2 linked regions of the Homo sapiens genome follow. The protein of the gene in region 1 interacts with the protein of each later gene in a biochemical or structural test. Each region holds a gene or a part of one and is shown on either strand. Other genes may lie near its edges. The genes, in order: NRG2 and ERBB4.

The links.
Region 2: the proteins of NRG2 (region 1) and ERBB4 form a complex in vitro, tested with the Homo sapiens proteins (2 studies listed by BioGRID).

The regions. Positions count from the first base shown.
Region 1 is NC_000005.10:140,037,650-140,049,361, reverse strand, and holds the start of NRG2 (pro-neuregulin-2, membrane-bound isoform), read left to right. Parts: upstream 1-6,062; 5' UTR 6,063-6,292; coding exon 6,293-6,992; intron 6,993-11,712. UniProt on the Homo sapiens protein: Direct ligand for ERBB3 and ERBB4 tyrosine kinase receptors. Concomitantly recruits ERBB1 and ERBB2 coreceptors, resulting in ligand-stimulated tyrosine phosphorylation and activation of the ERBB receptors.
Region 2 is NC_000002.12:211,373,173-211,382,612, forward strand, and holds the end of ERBB4 (receptor tyrosine-protein kinase erbB-4 isoform JM-a/CYT-1 precursor), read right to left. Parts: 3' UTR 2,545-9,440; downstream 1-2,544. UniProt on the Homo sapiens protein: Tyrosine-protein kinase that plays an essential role as cell surface receptor for neuregulins and EGF family members and regulates development of the heart, the central nervous system and the mammary gland, gene transcription, cell proliferation, differentiation, migration and apoptosis.

The sequences.
Region 1 (11,712 bases):
TTGTTCTTAGTGATTATTATATAGTGACACAGCCCACTGCTACCATGAACCAGTTTTTTTCACAACCTTGTGGTAAGCCACGGTATAGTGAACAGGTCTGGCTTCCATTTCTCTATGTGGTTCTATTCAAAAGTGTGAGCTTGAGTTTGTGATAAATCTTGGCAAAAAGATATCCATAGCTTTGTGATCTTGGGAAAGTCACTTAAATTCTCCGTCTGTCGATTTTCCTCATGTTTTTGTAAAATAATGCTTATCCCACGTGCTCTTCGGTGTTATGAATTTCAAATAGTGTATATGTGGAAGTAGTCTGAGGAAATTAGAGACCTCTTAGATGACAATGAAAGTGATGCTGGCTGGGCGCGGTGGCCCACGCCTGTAATTCCAGCACTTTGGGAGGACGAGGCGGGTGGATCACTTGAGGTCGGGAGTTCGAAACCAGCCTGGCCAACATGATGGAACCCCGTTTCTACAAAAAATACAAAAATTAGCTAGGAGTGGTGGTGGGCCCCTGTAGTCCCAGCTACTTGGGAGGCTGAGGCAGAATTGCTTGAACCTGGGAAGCAGAGGTTGCAGTGAGCCGAGACTGAAGAAGTGAGACTCTGTTAAAAAAAAAAAAAGGAAGAAAGAAAGTGATGCTAAGAGAAGACTGTCTCTTACAGAGAGCTGTGACGGTGCTGTGCGTGAGGAAGTGCTTTGGCAATGAGCAAGCTTGGATTACAGTCTCAACTGTGTCTGTCATTTGGGCAAGTTATTAAACCACTATGAATTTTCAATTTGAAAAATTCAAAGTAGATAAGACACAGAAATAATAAACACAAAGCTTCCAACAACAAGCCATTAATAGATGATGCCTATTATTATTTTTATTGTCAGTTATTGAATTACAGTGCAGAGTTAGCAGGTTTGGAATACTAGGTCTTATTTTCTAAGTCATACATACTAATTCACTGTGAACTTCAGGAAAAAGCCAGTATAAAATTGGGCTGTCCTTCTAGGAAACCAAATACCCTAAATGGCTGAGGCCAATTTCGGAAGCTTATCCTCACATACATCACACCTTGAGGAAATCTGGACAGGCACCTTCCTCCCCTTTATCTTTTTTTTTTTTTCCTTTTTGTGGAGAATGGGGTCTCGCTATATTGTCCAGGCAGGTCTTGAACTCCTGGGGTCAAGCTACCCTCCCACCTCTGTCTCCCTAAGAGTTGGGATTACAGGCATGAGCCACTGCACCTGGCCCTTTCTTCCCTTTAGAAAACTCTGCCTAACTCTCCACTTTCTATGGCTGCAGGAATTCTGGTAATCTGCTGGAGTCTCAAAATTTACCTCGGCATTCTAAGTTTATCTGAACAGGATATAATTATAGCAAAATAATTCCCTATGCTTTTTAGCATAAGAATCCCATTTTAAGGTAAAAAGAGTTTTACCCCATATAATAGTAGTTCCCATTATATAGAATATTCTTTCTGTTTATAGAATCCTATATAATAGTAGTTCTACTTTAAGTAGACTTTGAGAAAAACACATGATAAAAATTCAGCAACATTAACAAATTAGAGGATCCCCTCTTAAAATTTTTTTGAATAGCTAGTACATGAACTTGATATAAAATTCACGAGGTACAAAAGGAAATACCATGAAAATATCCTTCTTTCACCCCATCCCTCATTCACACACTGCCCTTCTCCAGAGCCTCCTATTGTTTCAACTTCTGCTGTATCTTTTCAAAGGTAAATTTGCACTACAAACATTTACATATTTCATCTTAAAAAAAGACAAAATGGTAGCATCTTACCACTCTTCTTCATCTTGCTTTTTTTCACTTAGCAATATCTTGTTATATTTTGTTGTACTTTAACATGGATATGTTGAAAAAAAAAGGTGGGGAGCAGGTGTGGTGGTTCACACCTGTAATCCCAGCACTTTGGGAGGCCAAGGCAGGAGGATTGCTTGAGCCCAGGAGTTGGAGACCAGTCTGGGCAAGGCCCTATCTCTACCAAAAAAAAAAAAAGTAATAATAAAGAAAAGAAAAGAAAAGAAAAGAAAACTAGCTGGGTGTGGTGGCATGTGCCCGTAGTCCCAGCTACTTAGGAGGATCACTTGAACCCAGGAGGTCGAGGCTGCAGTGAGCCATGATGGCCCCACTGCACTCCAGCCTGGGCAACAGAGCCAGATCGTGTCTCAAAAGAAAAAGAGAGTCCGGGCGTCGTGGCTCACGCCTGTAATCCCGGCACTTTGGGAGGCTGAGGCAGGCAGATCACCTGAAGTCAGGAGTTCGAGGCTGCTCTGGCCAACGTGGCGAAACCCAGTCTCTACTAAAAATACAAAAATTAGCCAGGCGTGGTAGTGCGTGCCTGTAGTCCCAGCTACTCGGGAGGCTGAGGCAGGAGAATTGCTTAAACCTGGGAGGCAGAAGTTGCAGTGAGCTGAGATCACACCACCGCACTCCAGCCTAGGGGACGGAGACTCTGTCTCAAAGAAAAAAAAAAAAAAAAAAAAGAGGCCGGGCTCAATGGCTCACACCTATAATCCCAGCACTTTGGGAGGCCAAGGCAGGCAGATCACCTGAGGTCGGGAGTTCAAGACCAGCCTGACCAACATGGAGAAACCCCGTCTCTACTAAAAATACAAAAAATTAGCCAGGCGTGGTGGCAGGCACCTGTAATCCCAGCTACTTGGGAGGCTGAGGCAGGATAATCACTTGAACCCGGGAGGTGGAGGTTGCAGTGAGCCAAGATCACACCATTGCACTCCAGCATGGGCAACAAGACCAAAACTCTGTCTCAAAAAAAAAAAAATAAGAGAGAGAGGGGAAAATAATATTTTTATTCTTCATGACATGTGCTGTTGAAAAATTGTATCGCCTTTTTTTTTTTTTTTTTTTTGAGACAGTGCTCTGTTGCCCAGGCTGGAGTGTAGTGTCATGAGGCTCACTGCAACCTCTGCCTCCTGGGTTCTAGCATTTCTCCTGTGTCAGCCTCCCAAGTAGCTGGGATTATAGGGGAGCGCCACCACGCCTGGCTAATTTTTTTTTTGGTAGTAGTAAAGATGGGGTTTCACCATGTTGGCCAGGTTAGTCTTGAACTCCTGACCTCAAGTGATCCACCCCACTCAGCCTACCAAAGTGCTAAGATTACAGGCATGAGCCACTGCACCCAGCCGCATTTTTTAATATACAGAAAATCCTAGTGAATATTTTTAATATACAGAAAATAAATACCACTTAGAGATTCTCAGCTCTTAGATTGGGAACCACCAGTATAAGTAAAATATTAGTAATCTTCAACTTTAATTTTGGCCCTTACTGTGCACCAGACATTGTTCTAAGCACTTTACATATTATCTCACATAATCCACATCCTCATCATCCTTCTAGTCTCAGCTTAAATGTTATCTCCTCAGAGAAGCCTTCCCTTATCCAAGTAGACCTATCCTCTCCCCTTTCCATTATTCTCTAGCATTTCATCCTGTTTATTTCCTTCAGGACACTCAGCAATACAAGTAATTAGTTACCCATTTGTGTACTTATTTACTGTTGTCTTCCCAGTCAGAGTATGAGCTTTGAGAGCACAGACATGTACTATTGAACAGTTTGGTTCACCACAGTACATCCAGTAACATACAGTGCCTCAGTGCTTGGCACAGAGGAGCCATTCAATTGAATATTTATTGAAAGTACATACTGAGCAAAAAACAGCTTTACGAAGTAGACCCTATTATTTTCTCCTTCATACTGATAAGGAAACTAAGGCCTAGAGAGTGAAATAGACTCATCCCAAAGTTGGTAAGTCACAGAGTTGCTTTAAAACCCAGCTCTGCTGGGCTCCAGAGCACAAGCTCTTCACTATGACCCTGGTCTCAGGAACAGAAGACTGAGTTCAGTCCTGGCTGTGTGAAATGTTGAGTAAGTCCCCTATCCCCTCTGGGACTTTTTCTTTCATTGTAAAATGAAAGAGTGGATGTCGCTATCTTCCTTATGGTGATGTTTTGTGATTTATGAGGTCTGTGATCTATGAAAATGAAATGGGGGACACTGAAGGAGCCAAGAAGATTGGCTTGATGCCTTTAAGCGTGCCGATTTTCAGTTATTTTCTTCCTTCTCTCCTTCTTTCACTGGAGATTTGCTAATCCTTATTTTATGCCAGGCATTGTGTTGGAGGTAATAGGAATCCAAAGATGAATAGGATATATATAGTCCCTGACATTAACGTGCCTGGCCTGATGGGAGATGCAGACCCATTAAATGGCTGCTTGAAATACGGTATGGGCCAGTATCCCAACAGTAATACTATGTGTGAAGCTCATGGCAATACAGAGGAGGAAGGGATTAATTCCATCATGTATGTGTTGGTGGGAGTAGAGGTGGATATGTAGGAAGGGGGATGCGGTATAATGCTGAGCTGGGCCTTGGGAAAATAAGTTTTCCATGTGGTCAAGGTGGAGGTGAGGCTTTCTGGACACAAGAGACATCATGTGCAGAAGCACACCAAGAAAGAGCATGAAGTGCTGAGGATTGCTAGAGTGGGGGGTTGGCTCTCAGGATATGAAGCTGGCTAGGCAAAGGGAGCCCATGAAGAGCCTTGCTGAGGAGTTTGAACTTAACTTCTGAGAGCAGTAGCATGGCCAAATTGTACTTACATTTTATTTTTAGAAGGATCACTCTGGCATTGGTAGGACTGGAGATAGGTGATGAGGTGAAAGGAGTGGAGACCAGTTAGAAGGCTTAGAAGTTGTCCAGGTGAGAGATGATGAGGGCTTGGACTTAAGGTATTTGCAGCAGAGTTGGAGTGGAAGTAGATAAATTGGAGATTATTTTAAAAGAGAGACCCAAAGGCCTTGGTGATTAATTGGATGAGGAAGAATAAAAGATGAGATGAAGGGACTTATTGTAATGGATTGATGTAGTCTAAAAGAATAAAACAGTGGCATTAATAATTATAGGGGATTTGGAGTGAAGTGGAAGAAATAATGATGTTGGCTTTGGATGTATTGAGTTTAAGATGTCTCTTAGCTAGGAGGAAAGGTGTAGCTCTCTCTACTTCCTTTCCAGAATAGCAGTCCTAGCCTAAGTCACTCATCCTTGGACCAGTTTCCTGTGGAGCCCAGTGCGGTATAAAATTCCCCAAGAGCTCACTGGCATTCCTGAGCTCCACATCCTTCAAGGTTAAAAGCTGGGTGTTGAAAACTCCCTGGACCCTCATTGATAGGCTAATGGATTATGGACCTGTGTGTGTGTGTGTGTGTGTGTGTGTGTGTTTTAAATCAGATGCTGGCTCCAGTGCAGCAAACTCTTCTGCCTCTTGCAAGCATCAGCCTTGGAAACAAAACAAAACAAAACAAAAAAAACCTTTTTTATGGAGCAGCCTCTGGCCCTGACAGGCTCTGGCTCTCTGTTGGCTCCCAAGAAGCCCCCCACCTTTCTTAGAGATCAGATTTTTAAAAGATGAGGTTGTACAGTGCTCAGCCAGATCCCCACGTGGCCGCTGAAGAAAGCCCAGAGTGTTGGGGACTGGGCCCTTTCTCAGCTACCACCTCTGCTTGGGTGTCCTCAATGCTAAGACAAGACACCTTGTGGCCCAACTCTTTCCAAAATGACGGGGCTGGGATTCTCCCCCACCTCAAGTCGAATATCCAGCGTTCACCAGGCGGTGGCAGGACCGAGCACGTGGTATCATTTAGGGGCTGGGCTCCAGGGTCCTCCTAGGAAAGAGGACAGCCCAAGAGGCGAGAGGCTGGCCGGCCACCCTGGCCATGGCAACCTCTCTGGCTCCTACAGCTGCTGGCCAAAGGCAGGGGGCACGCCCTGCGTCCCATTACCACGTTCATAGGATGGTGCCAGGAGCCCGTTATCTCTTCTTCGCCTTCTCCTCACGCACCACCCCCACTGTCATGCCGATAAATCCCGGGAGCAAAGGGTGGCACGATTCCTCCCGCGCCCCTGCGGGCTGAAGGCGGGCACTAAAGCAGTGCAGTCCCAAGCTTCCCCTGCAGAAGCCGCGCTCCCTACTCGGTCCGGGGGCAGAGGGGGCGCGAGAGAGCAAGTGGGCGGGCGTCCCATCCTCCGCATCCTCCTCCAGGTCCTGGCGCACAGGGTGGGAGCGCTGCGCTGCGCCGCGCTGCGCATCGCGGCCCGCTTGCCGCCTGCCCCCTGCCCTAGCTGGGCCACCTCCCCGGGCTGCCGGTGGAGGGCTAAGAGGCGCTAACGTTACGCTGTTTCCGGTTTTCCAGCGGGCTCTGTTTCCCCTCCCAAGGCGGCGGCGGCTGAGCGGCGGAGCCCCCCAAATGGCCTGGCCAGATGCGGCAGGTTTGCTGCTCAGCGCTGCCGCCGCCGCCACTGGAGAAGGGTCGGTGCAGCAGCTACAGCGACAGCAGCAGCAGCAGCAGCGAGAGGAGCAGCAGCAGCAGCAGCAGCAGCAGCGAGAGCGGCAGCAGCAGCAGGAGCAGCAGCAACAACAGCAGCATCTCTCGTCCCGCTGCGCCCCCAGAGCCGCGGCCGCAGCAACAGCCGCAGCCCCGCAGCCCCGCAGCCCGGAGAGCCGCCGCCCGTTCGCGAGCCGCAGCCGCCGGCGGCATGAGGCGCGACCCGGCCCCCGGCTTCTCCATGCTGCTCTTCGGTGTGTCGCTCGCCTGCTACTCGCCCAGCCTCAAGTCAGTGCAGGACCAGGCGTACAAGGCACCCGTGGTGGTGGAGGGCAAGGTACAGGGGCTGGTCCCAGCCGGCGGCTCCAGCTCCAACAGCACCCGAGAGCCGCCCGCCTCGGGTCGGGTGGCGTTGGTAAAGGTGCTGGACAAGTGGCCGCTCCGGAGCGGGGGGCTGCAGCGCGAGCAGGTGATCAGCGTGGGCTCCTGTGTGCCGCTCGAAAGGAACCAGCGCTACATCTTTTTCCTGGAGCCCACGGAACAGCCCTTAGTCTTTAAGACGGCCTTTGCCCCCCTCGATACCAACGGCAAAAATCTCAAGAAAGAGGTGGGCAAGATCCTGTGCACTGACTGCGGTGAGTCGCCCCCTCCCTTTGCTGGAGAAAGGGGGGAGGGGCGAGGTGGTGGAGAATGGGGGTGGGGCGGGGAGGTGCTGCAGGTGCCCGGGCCTGGCAGCGTCCGGGCGCTGGGGGGGTGGGGCCGCCCCTGGGCAGGGCGCCTGGCACGGGTGGGTGAGGGGGTTGGGGTTGGAGAGAAGAAGGATCAGGCTCAAAGTGTGCCAGGGGTGGGGGGCGGAGGGAGGCGCTGGCCTGTGCCAGCGGGGATCTGCGGCTGATGTATGGCATGTGGGGCTGGAAAGCTGCCATCATAGCCCAGTAGCGGAAGGAAAAACGGAGAGGTCCTGGCGGTGCTGGCCTGAGGCTCAGTGAGTCAGGAGTGACCCTCGGAGGCCTTGCCTGCCCTGCTGCCGCGGGCCTGCCGTGCCCAGGCTGGCAGGGTCTGCGGGAGCAGCTGGGCAGACTCCCAGGCTGTGAAGGCCTCCGCTTACAAGTTCTCCTAGGGAATGGTCGCCCCCGCCCCCTCCTTCCTCTCCTGGGCTCGTTGCTCTGCTCATCCACACCGCTGGCGCAGGCAGAGTTGGACTTTTTCTGCTACTGTTTTCCGTCCTCCATGTGGCTCCAGTTTTTTTCTTCATCGTGATTGCCTGTCTTTGCTAAGCAGGTAGCACATCCTTCTCTTAAGACTAGCAAGCAGACACCTTTTTTTTTTTTTTTTTTTAGCTGTTTCTGGGGGAATTACAAGGTCTGTTGATTGTGATGATGATGAAAGAGAGTAACTTCTGCTGAATGCTTTAAGTTCAGCTCTAACGTCTTACTCGCCGGATGTATTTGACTGCATCTCTCATCTTCATGATGTTGGATGCTGCACAGGAATGCAGGTGATTAGAAACAAAACACTGAAATCTGTAGATCTCTGCAGCTGGGAATGGAAGTCTCCCATGTCAAAAGTCAAAGAAATGTCAGTCTAAGAGCTTTTTCTTCTTGTCCCTGAATCCAGTACTTACTTCTTAGTAAGATATTTCAAATCAAATTGTCCCACACTGGAGTATTTGGTGTAAGCCTGTCTCGTGCTTATTCAAATTGAGGTTTCGTTTTGTCCCAACTAAAGCTGAATTTGTTGGCATGCGGTATGACTTGCTGGACTGTGTAATCGCTGAATTATGATAGATGTCCTGTACTCTCATAGAAGTTGGTATGTTTACCAGTTTTACCAACTGATTCTGGGTAGTGTAGACAGGCTTTGTTTGAGTAGCAAAATATGTGTAACAGCTTATAGTAAGTTTTGCTGCCTTCATCTTTCTAGATCGATACCTATGATTTTTGGAAGCTTTCCTCCCCCACCCCCTTCAGGAGGCAAATTTTAGGAGTTTAGTGATGGGAGTATATCTAGACACTAACTATGTTAAACTGTGATCACTTTAATGAGAAGAATCTTGGCAATGTCTTAATAAGGAGGGGAAAACTTTGGGGGATAACAGCAGTTTATCGCTCTGACATTATCCTTAGGAATATTGTTGACTGCTTTTTATTATTGGTTTTATGTTCTGAAATGTTTTATAAAGACAAGTAGAGACCAGCTAAGAATTTCTAATTTTTTATTCTATTAAGTATTTTGATACTTGGGGAGTATTAAAATACTCTGAGATGCCTTGGGGAGCTGTGAAACAGTATTGTACAGTGGAAAATAGATAGTAAAAATATTTATTGAATCTTGTCCAAGGACAGCTTCTGTTTGGTTGTTGGTGAGTTGCTCCTGCATTTGCACAGTGTACATCTCCACATAATCCCTAGTCTGGGCCGCTGAGGACTTGATGGTCTTTGTCAGATAACCCCATAGAGTAACTGGCTTCTCTGCTCCCTTGTCTCCCTCCTCCTACTTTCTCCTTCCCCCAACACAATACACCTTATCAATTACACATTGTTTGTTCTAGTGGGTATTCAGTAGCTTAACAGTTGAATGCAGAAATCATGAAAGATTTGAGGGGCAGAAATATGGTCTGTTTCTAGGTTATGATCATCTCATATTATCAAAATAGCATGTGTAGTATAGTTCTTAAAAAGATACATTTAGAACTGCAATCACTGGTAAAGGAAGGGCCCTCACATATCACAAATTATCAAGGATCAGGAATGTGTATGGCAGTAAACATTTTAGAATGCAAAAAAAAATTGCTTTGAATTGATATTCAAAGGGAAGTATATAAATAGGTACCATTTTGGGGAGCCTTATATAAGGGGATTAGAAATTAAAGGACATATTTGTGAGACTTGTGGAATTGGTGATAATATAACAGAAGAGCATAAACTGCATTTTCTTGTTTTCTACTATGTGGTTAAAGAAAACATGTACTGGTAATGCTATATTAAATAAGGAAACAAAATCATCCTAACTAACCACAACACTGTCCTTGTGCTTAGCAGGAAATAACTAACAAATTCATTTTCTGTTTTCTATTCTAAAGAAAGCCCTCTGGGCCACAGGGTCATTGGGAACATTTTCTCCTTGGAGCAGATTTGCCCATTGCAAAATAGGGAAACTGGCACTTGGAAACTGTCGTCATGGCCGTTACATTGAGCAACTGAGGTTGCATTGTTGCTTTGTTTAGCTAGTTTCAGGTCTGAGTGTGTGTAGGTTCTGAGAGGTGTGGTTCTCTGGGAAGTCACCTAGAAAGCCCGTGGGTTTTTTTTTGGAGGGGGGCAAAATATGGAGGGATAATATTGTGTTTAAAAATTGGCCTCAGGAGCATCAATGCAGGAGGTCACACTGGACCTCTTCTTATCAGTCCTCATAAATGGCTCGTTTCCACCATGAAATGTTGACTTGAAGTCTGTGATCTAAGGTGGGGAAAGGTAGACAGGGGTCTTTCTGGAAGAGCAAGACCTGCCAGAGTGATATTTTTACATATCTAATGTGTATCATTTATCCAGAAAGAGTACATCTGGTGATAGAGTTGAGTAAAATCTTTGCATTTCTTAGAAGATTGCATTGTATGGAGGGAGGTGTTTTCTGTGCCTTCTGTGGAAAGGCGAGGAAAAAGAGTTAGAAAGGCCTTGCAGGGATTAGCAATTCTGTACAATGTTATAAAAACATCATGTTCTGCAAATAGTCCTGCATTTTAAAAGATGGTTGCATATATTTTGGTATAATTACACCCTATCTTGTTGTTTTCTTATATTCATGTTTTTAAGCAGTTTCCTTATTGAATAGATGCAGTAAATAGCATAAAAAATGAAGATCATTTCTTTCTTTGGGATTTCCTGATTAGCAGTTTTCCAGTGTATAGTGTACTTTGTTGCTACAAGGAAAGGTGTATTCCTAAGGATTTTTACATTCTTTAGGATAGTTTTAAATTAATGTGGCACCCAGATTCACATATTAGAGAAAGGTGGTTCACAAAATTCAGTATAGCAAAAGCGACTACATATTTTTTAAATGCTGTTTATTTAAAGAATCTTTTCTTCCCCAGCCAGCTGGAAACCCAGCTGTGCTGCAGCTTGAAGATGGGAAAGTGAAACTAGATTAGAAACTGACCAGTCCTAGTGATGAGGACAAGGCATGGTTGTAGATTTAACGATTGAATTACCACCCTAATGTCATTATTTCTTGTAGTGGCTGCTTTCCTCGGCAGACTGCATTCTTGGGGTAGGAACAATAGCTTATCTTTGAGGTCTTCTTTCTCCTAGTTCTCCTGCCCTGCCGCGTTTCGTACTTTGCCTGGTTTATAGAAGGACTCTCCATCAGTGTCATTTGAATGGATAAAGTCAAGTGAAGTTAAAGAAAGCCTCCAGATTAAAACTAAAACAATCTTAACTCTCTGACCTGTGACATCAAGTCCTGTGCTGAAAAGCTGAGTTTGATGATAGCCTTTACCTGTCGCTATGGGAACCTTTCTTCCGAAAGAATCATTATCAACTAGAGTACTTAACCACAATGTGCTTAATCATTGTGCTGATTAGTGTTAATGGGATTTGAGCACTGGAGAATAAAGATCTTGCTGGAAAAGACCCTCTTATTTTTTTTTCTTTTGGAAGGTAGATTACTACTTGCCCACCCCCAAATTTAAACAAAAATAAAACAACCGTCGGTTTGAATTAACAAACAGTTTGAGAGCTAGGGATGGTGGTATATTAACAATCTAGGTGACTAACTTCCTCTCGGCCCCTAATCAAAGCAAGTGTGCTTCCCCTTTACTATCCTGTTTTATCTAGGGCATTTTAATTTTATTTCCTAATATCAATTAGTTTTTTCTTTATAAAATTATATTTATATTTTTGGAGCTGTAGCACATTTATATGGCTCAAAATTCAGAAAATACATAAAAATATATGATGAAAAGTTTCCTTCTTAATCCCTGTTCTCAGCTACCCCGCTTTAAGGCTCTGTGGTAAAATATTCAGGAATAATTTATTCTTGAAGTGTGTGTTTCTCTAAAAACACAATGTTTTTCAAAGCAGTCTTTTTTTTTTTTTTTTTTTTGAGATGGAGTCTTGCTCTGTCGCCCAGGCTAGAGTGCAGTGGCACATTCTCAGCTCACTGCAACCTCCGTCTCCCTGGTTCAAGCAATTCTCCTGCCTCAGCCTCCTGAGTAGCTGGGATTACAGGCACCCGCCACCGCGCCCGATTAATTTTTGTATTTTTAGTAGAGACGGGTTTTCACCATCTTGGCCTGGCTGGCCTCGAACTCCTGACCTCGTGATCCACCCGCCTTGGCCCCCCAAAGTGCTTGGATTACAG
Region 2 (9,440 bases), on another chromosome or scaffold:
TTATTTTTTTAGAGCTCTCTACTTGTCTTGGAAAGATAAGTAAGTAGAAACAGGTCAAATATTTTGCAAGATGGGTATTTGTCTTTTGAAAACCTACGGGTAACCTACAAGAGCAGTATTCCAATATTCATTCACATGTCTCCTGTGTACCATTTGATTTACAGTCTCCTGATTGCTATCTTGTGGTGAATTGTTCTGTTTATAGCTTCAAAATTGCTATCTGGGTGACAGTCTTCTGTTTCTAATCTTCAGATGGTTGTCTAGTGGCTTTGCTCCCCATGGCTTATCATGCAGCTTGATAACACTGTGGAGGGAAATACAATTAGCTAACTACGCACCTGCTCAGTTTATAGTTTTATGAGTCCATCTTGTAGTATGATATACATTATGGGGCTTGTGATAGAAGTTCTTGAAAATAGAGATTTTGTATGAAGTTCTGCAATATATCAATATATCTTTAAATATTTTACATCTCTTTATATGTTCTGTATATGTATATCTACTACATCTCTATATATTCTGTACATATATGTATGGCTGCATATATGTGTCTCCCCATAGGGGCTTTTTAAATTAAGCAATTGTGAATTCAGGATTTTAAGACTATAAAGCAGGAGAGAGTAGCTAGAGTCAGAATTGTGACGTTCATTTTAGCCTTGTTAGAAGCTCTTCTATACCGCTTTATATACCTCACAGCTTTTCTATAATTTCTTCCTCTCATCATCGTCATTTTAAATGAAGCTTTGACATTGGATCAGGATCAGATTCTACATTGTGAGTATTTTAGAAGTTTCCAGTGACCACTTAGCCTATAATAAACGCTAGAAAATTTACCAACTTATTTATAAATTAGGCATTTTATATGAAGTTTCTCCTCTATTAACACTAATATATGCAATAACACTGCTAGAGATAAGTGTAGTTATCTGCAATATTCTCTGATATATGTGGGGGAGAAGTGGGTGCCTTACCAAGCAGATTTCTAACACCTTGGGCAGGGCACACCATCAGTAGGCTCTCCACATGGTGGTGGTTTTGTTGTTGTTTCAATTATTTTACTTGTGATTATGTTGCACTTAATCTTTCTAGAATGAAAGAAACCTCATCCTCCATTATAGATAAGTTGCTCCCAGATAGTTTGAGGATGTGGAATAAGGTTTTTAATTGCATCACAAGAGCGGTTGTCAAAAAACTAATAAAAGACCATTGAAGGTCTTGACCTTCATCAGTGTGTCAGCTTTATGCATGCTTTCATCAGAAGGTGGTTACTCCTTATCAGAGGAAGAAAGAAAAGTGGTAACTAATTAAAGAAAGATATTTAAGTCAGAATATGAAGCTTTGAGAGTGAGTACCATCACTTACTAATGGTTGTATGATTCTAGTTTACACTTGTTATTTCAGTTTTATTTTCCTTATATGGGTGACTAGGATTATTCTAATAATACTTACCTCAAAAGGGTGCAGTAAGCCAAATGAACCAACATATGAAGAATTTTATAAAGCACTATGTAATTAGTAAGTAGTATAACTGCTATAAGCTAGCAGCATGGTGCCACTGGAAATTTCAATTGTACCTTAAAGCATTAGGAACACAAGTTGTTTCTCCTCCCTTCTCAGTTTATAGTTGTTTAAAATGCATAGTGCCCTGACATATCTTACCCTGAACACTATGAAATCACAATGATTTCAGATGAAAGGGCCATAATATATAAGGGAGGGTATGTGTGCAGGTCCATGCAAATAGCAGGTGTTATTAACAAGATCTTTGAAGCTCCACAATTGAACAGGTTTAAGAAAATTTACTCCAATATATTAGGCTGAAAATATATTTTTTGTCCACTGACTCAGTCATCATTCTATACAGTCAAATAACCACAGTAGTTTCAAAGAATAACAGAATCTCTAATCAGAAGTTATTGGAATTTTGAAATTCTTACACTTTGGAGGCATGGAGTAATCAATGATGTTTAAAATCAAAAAGTTATATAATAAGAAAATGTTGAGAGAGGATCTTGTTCATGTCACCAATGTCTCTGAAGTCACTCTCACACTGTTATGTGGGCTTGTCATAAGTCACTAGTCAGCTGATTGACTATTTAAGGTCTTATTCTCCCTCCCCCACCTCAAGGACAGTAGTAACATCTGATATTCTTTATAGCCAAGGATTGCCAGGATCCATTTTATAAACTGCAATGAGGGCAGAAAGAAAAAAAGTATATAAAAATATTAATGTCGTTTGGATGCAACCTACAAAATATTTTATATATTTTTTTATTCTCAGAGAAACAAACCAACCAGAGTTAATTAAGCATAGCATGCACAGATGAGTAAGTCTGTACACATCAATGGGCATATGCAGTGGATGGTAAAAACATATGGAACATATCACATCCCAAACACCAAAGAGTTCTGAGGAATAACTAATGAGCTGCATAAATATGGGCAAAATAAGCCCATTTTTATATCTTCACATTATTAAACCTAGAACAAATCTTCCTCTCTGCTAGTTGGCTTATCTAATAACAAATTTCTGACACAAAAGAGAACGTTTGTTTCATATTTTATTGAATTTCATTTATATTAAATTAAAAATATATTTCTGACAGATTCATGTAACAAAAAGGCAGAACAGTTTTCAAATTGTTCAGCTGGGATGATCAGTATGGAATGAGGCAAAGCAGTTCGCATTCTATAATTGCCTTGTACAGGTACAATTCTTTCCCAAGAGCCAAAAGAGGATCCTTGAGAACTAACGGAAAAGCCTAATTACATAAATGTAAAATACTGTTTCTCCCTCATTCTCAAATAACAACAGGAATGAGGGAAAGGAAGGAGGATGGGTAAAAGGTTGGAGGAGAAGAAAGAATAAGAGAAAGTATACTAAAAATATGCCTAACATTAAAAAAGTTAGTATGTGTTAGGTGCATGATCCTTCATCAATAACATGGAAAAAAATCAAAATAACATTACACCACACACAATTGGCATATCCTATTGTGTAAGCGAGTGCAGAGGTTGAACACATCACAATAGTGCTGAACACAGAATCACAAGTAATGTCAAAATGATAACTTCCAACCAAAAAAGAAACAATCACAGGCCAATTACTTATATACAAATCAACCCTAAAGACAATTATGTTCCAAATAAAGATGTCCACAAAAGAAAATCAAAGCAACATTATACTTATTTACAAATGCAACTAGCCATGTCTTTAACAAGCTATAAAAATACTATTCACATTTTCAAACATACAGTAGTATTTTTTGTTTGTTTATTTCAAAAAGGCAGCTAACTTTGAATGCAGGGATTTAAATAAAACATTGATGGCTTACCAGCAAGGTATTTTTGCACCCCAATCCTTTGAAGATACTTCACAAGAGAGAGGGCTTGTTTTCTGCTTACAAGTTAAGAAAATAAGGAAGTGAGTACAAATGTATACACCTTAAGCCTCTGCCTTTTCAGTAAAGTGACTCCCTCTCTCACCCAAACTGATGTCAGTAAATTACTTTGATGCATGTATAAGATGAATGTTTGAGAGTAGATTTAAGATGACTTTTTTTGTGCTATGAATTGTCTTCCACATTGATCTCATTTTCATTTGATCTTCTTGTAATGGTGCTCAAGAAAGAGATGAACTAGTCATACACCATGGGAAAATGCGGTTTCAGCATGCAGCCACGCAATCCCTGGTGCTCTCAACATGAGAAGGAGACACACCAGCCAGGGAGACAGGCATTCAAAGTTAGCTGCCCTCACACAGCTGCTCCGTTTAATAATCGACCCATTTAACAGCAGTACCAGTTTATGCTACATATTTCAAAGTACCTTACTTTAAAAGAACACCTTACATATCTACATTTAGAAAATAACTTTCGTAGTTGATTACTGGAGTAATCCCAAAAGGGTTCTTGGAGTGCTATGGTTGTAGTCCCCTCACTCCCCCCTCCCAGCCCCTGAGAGATCCAGAAATATACAGGAAAATGACTCTCACATTAAGGGAAAAGGACAACCCCCAATTAACTAAAAAATCTGGAAATGACATTTGAAAACCAGATTCGTGTCAATATACAGGAGGTATGATTTGCTTTCCTTCACAAAGGCTATAGGCCTGGGGGAAATATCTACGCATTGGGGATAAAAATAGCAGTAAAGGCAAAGTGGTTTGGACAAGTTAGACTATTGCCTACAGGTATGAATCTTTGTTTTCCTATATTTGTATATTTGCACAAATATAACCACTTCTCATGATATAGGGAAAGCTCACTAGAGCATGAAAAGAAAAACGTCCATAAAGAGCAAAAGTAGGTAAAGGATGGCATTCTATTAAACAACATGGATTTTCATTAACATGAACTGTCCTCATTATGTATTTGTTAGATGGATGAATGATCCAAAAAAGAATTGCAGGTGGTTATCAAAGCTGAATAGCCTTTACCTTTATGATAATAAGACTCCTCATTTGGGAGAAAAAAATTTACAGCAGCTACAAAATATTTACGATTAGGAACCAAATAAGATGAATAAAGCAAATAAGTTAATTTACTGGCAAAAATAACTTCTTGGTTATATGTACAGCTTTTATGTAAAGATTAAATCGAAGTTCTACCAAGTGTATGTGGACATATGTGAGTTTCAAGATTCATCACAGGGCTAACTCGTCTCAAATTCCTATAGGGAAGGACACAGAGAATTGATCTTCATGGGAAACCATAATTTTAATAGCTTAAATATTCTCTATGCGGTAGTTTGATAGTTCACTTAAACAGTGTCCAAATTGCTAGAATCTCTTATGAAAAAATCAGGCATTCGAGGGCAAAGATGAAGTCAGTGTTTCACAAAGTGGGGTGTAGGATCTCAGAGATCCACTATGGCTTAAGAAAGGAACAGGACAGCATCGGGGGACTACTTTGAACCAGGGTGGTAGAAAGGGAAGAGAGCAGTGCCAGTTGTGTCAATGGGCAAAAAAGGGAAGGATTCTATTTTCCTCTAAAGGTCAGAGAGAAATACATTTTTCTTTGATTCCTAACAAGGTAATCACTTACTTGCAAAGCTGACTGTCAAAGAGTATTTTCCAGAGGAAGCATGTGAATACCCCCCGTGAAATTGGGGCTTAGAGTCATTTTAGCTTGTGACTATAGAAGCATTTACTTCTGCCCAAAATGTCACCTGGCCAGGAATTAGGTGAGGCAGGGGCCTGCAAAAGTGACAGATCCTACATTTTTGGACCTCTACAAAATCAGTGAGACTTGAACCGAGTATCTGAAATTTCTATTATTTTAGAGAGACTTTTAATGAAAAGAAAAAAGCAGCTCACACTGCTAAAAGATATTTGCCCACACAAACACAAGGGCCCCTGGCCCGACACAATGCCCACAACAGCTTCTTGTTTCCAACTGCAGAGAGAACTCAGATCTCTGGGATCAGAAAAATTTTATTAATTCTACCCAGAAGTATAAAAACTGGCCCCATTGTAATATCAGTAATAATGAGGTCTCCACTGATAATGATCTTTTAAAATTATGCCTGATCTCATCTGTATAATATTTGTTCTTAAGCAAATAGCAACCAGGCGATACCAATCTGCATTTATATGTTTACATGGGGCAAGGCTGTCCTTCAAACTGATACACACCGAAGTCCATGTACACAAACAGAGGCACAGTAAGATCCTCTGCCCACAGTATATACAGTAGAAGTTAATTTATCTGTTTCTTTTTTTTTTTTTAACAACTAGAAGCTGATGTTGTAGGATCAGCTCTAGGATCCTCTGCCCACAGTATACAGTAGAAGTTAATTTATCTGGTTTTTTTAACAACTAGAAGCTGATGCACATGGATTTCTCATTTGCCCTATAACAATCATCATTCTAATAACTAAAGTCCAAAAGAATGGCAATGCAATAGTTTGAAACGCTTGGTTTAGCATTTATTTATCAGAAAAATTGTGATTCTTTGTTGTCATTTTTGGAGGCAAGAGGGCATAGTGAGAAAAGAAAGGACATATCACCAATTAACTGTATTTTGTTTGTTTGCTAGCTAAATGACACCACTCCTTTTTTTTTTTGTCTCTGCATAAGGTAATAGAACATTTACATTTTCTTTACTTCATCTTGAAGACCCTTACTTAGTCATATGTAACATGTTTGCCTATTAAATTCTGCAAGGTGGTGTTTATTTAAAAAAATAAATAAATACAATTTTCTTTACATTTAAAAAGTGATAAAGGAATAAGAGAATGAGAAAAAATTGTTCATTGTAATGCTTTAAAGCAAGTTTTCCCAAGTGGAACCATATATGCCTACTTTCAGCTAAACCCAACAAACAACAATTTTAAATGGCAAACTTATCTTTTTACTATGCAAAATCCATCCTACATTTTTATATCCTGCATTTAACTTTGTTACATTATACTTGTGGTTAGTTTTCTAGTTTGATTTATTTAATAATATTAAAATCATTTAACATCTGATAACCTAACTAAATCTACATCTTATAGCATTATCGTGGTTCTGTCCAGTTATATACATGCTTTCATGATCACCTTTTCTATTACCTTATGAACTACATATACTAGTTAAATTATCAACAATTACAGATGGATGAATAATTCCAGTTTTGAAATAAAGGTTAGAGAGCTCTAGAAAAACTTGTATTTACATCCTTCCCTGTCAGGCTTAAACAATTTTAATTTTCTTTTCATTTTTGATACTTCAAGAAGCACATTAATAGTCCTTCCAACTTCATCTAGTAGCAGAGCCTCACACAGTCCTTTTCTTGATTTTTCCTTAGCATTGTAAGTATGCACAATCTTCATGCCATGTCTTTCCTTTAGAAGGTATTAGCTCACACACTATAACACTTAAACACTATTCCTTCTCTTAAATTAGATATTCAGTCCTTCTCCCTAATCTACAAAAAAGAATCACTTGATTTTAGTTTGTGTGTTTTAATAGAAATTTGAGTTTTGCGTTGTTTTTCATGCTATTTTAAGAATGTTACTGGAGAAAGGATTCTCATCCTAAGCTGTGCTACTAATACTATGCAGAAAACCAGGAGCTGCTTGGTAGTCTAACACCTTTTGTGGTGCAGATGCTTTGTGGTTCTGGATCTATCCTAGATCAGAGGCCATCTTTCCTCACCTGTTTACCACTTTCTTTAGGCAATCATTTAACTGCAAAATTTTTCCATACCTGCCCAAAATAGGTATAATCTACAAAGTTGGGTGATTTAAAAAATATACTCCGTGTAATTTTAATACTAATTTGTCTCAGATTTACATAATTGATTCTGCAAATTTCAATTGCTACAATTGGCCTCTGGAATCTGATATCCCCCCAAGCACTTTGAAGACTTTAACTGACATTTTAAAATTCTACCCTACTGGACTAAATAAGTTATTCTCTGGAAGGAATGAAACTTTTTTTCTCCCTCTTATACATGCTGAAATATGTTTTCCCAGGGGGGACAAAAATAAAACAAAAAACACTCAAACAACTGAAGTCAATTATATACTACAGAAATCATTCAAAAGAATTATAAAGTGGTGCTATTATAAAGCATTTGGGTCATTTTGGATTATTCCTACATGCATCTCTAGGTATTACCCAACATGTAGAAGTCTTGTGTTCTTAGGAGGAAAGAGACATTCACTAAATACATTTCTGTTACCTTAACAGTTAAAAGTTTGTTTTAACTATTCATTTTTTCCTTCTCCAAAATGAGTGATTCTGCTTTCTATAGCCCAGTAGAAACCATATGCATATTGTAAATCAGAAAAAAAAAATCAAGGTATAGTATCCAAAAAGAGGGCTGTGATGACTCGATGCAGATTTATTTAGAAAGGGAGGCTTATATTCAATTTTTCATAAGTACTGATATGAGATCCCTTTTCCTAGAGACTTCTCTGAATGGATAGGAGAGCCCTGAGCTATTAGATTGTGGCCCCTGAATCACTCTGTGTCTTTACCCCTGAAAAGTTTGAGGGTGAACTTCACTAGAAGGAATCTCACAAACCCTTCTCCTGCTCTACCATACTTTTTCAGCTCGCCTCACTTCTTATAGCTTAGAAAAAAACCAACTCCAATGTCTCCAATATTCTTGGCCAAGGACCACCATCTGCTTTTGGTTTAATGGTGAAGTTAGACTCTAGATAGGCTAATTAGTCAGTGATGCAATATTCTCCTAGACCAGTTTATGTTTGAATAATATTATTGAAATTATCCTGTTTGTCAACATCAACAATTTGAAGGATGTTTAACTTATATCCCAAATGAGTTTAAAGGAGATATCTTACAGTACAACTGATTATATGACAGCTATTCACAAAAGAGACTATGCAATCTGATTGTTGGAACGCATAGAAAAATTAAAATGTCATTTTAATTAAATCTCCTAGATCATAGAATTTTGAAGTTGAGGATGATATTCCATTTATCTGAGTGTTCCCCACAAAACATGGTGCTTTTAGTAGACACAGTTAGATAAAGGAGGTTTGGATGGATGGATGGATGGATTTACTTGTTCAGAATAGGAAGAAACACAAATTTCTTTGGATTTTTTTCTCTAAACTTTCTCTGCCTTAATAGATATTTTTACTCTAATTAATTAATCTTATACTATTGATTCTAATTTGGTCCCAATATTTTAACATTAGAAATATTTTTTAAAAATCTAAATGACTTGGGGTAGAATTTTCAGAAAAGGGCGACTTATATCTAAGTTTCCTAATTATTGATGTGAGGCCCCCTTTACTTGGAGACTCATCTCTGTCATTTGTTCTCATCCTTCATCTCATCAGGTATTCTTTCAAAATGATACATAATAATGATGGTTCTAGTACTGGATGCAGTATATGAAGAAAGGGAATTATATAAAGTATCAAAAGATTAGTGTGTTGGATAATAAAATAATTGCATGAGAAGATGTTTCACATTTATTTACAACTTTTGACCCAAGGACCTATCCCTAAGCTTTGAATGTTTGTGTTTTTCTTTTTATTATACCAATTTATGTGCAAAGAGTTACCTTCTACTTCATATAAATAGTCTCATACTAGAAATTCCATGGAATTCAAGCCAATCCTTACTCGCATTCCTTCTTACGAAGTATACGAACTGAACAAATTTCCTTGCGTAGCAAAGGTGACATATGAAGATAATGTGCTGGCCTCTCATCATAGTCCCTGGATACCGTTGCAAGGTTCCTAATTTGCTTGGTTTGGCATTTCCACAGTCTTTATCTTAGCTCTTTTTTTAAAAATGTACTTAAATTAGTTAATTTGCTGGTTGCTTCCATATTGCTTGATTCAAAATCCAAAATGGAGTTCAGAAAAAGAACAAATAAAATTACAGCTTAAGTGCAAACTACATTTCTGAGTATCTGCCAGGTAGACATACCCAATCCAGTGTGTTTCTTCCAGTTCAATGGATTCCCTCATTG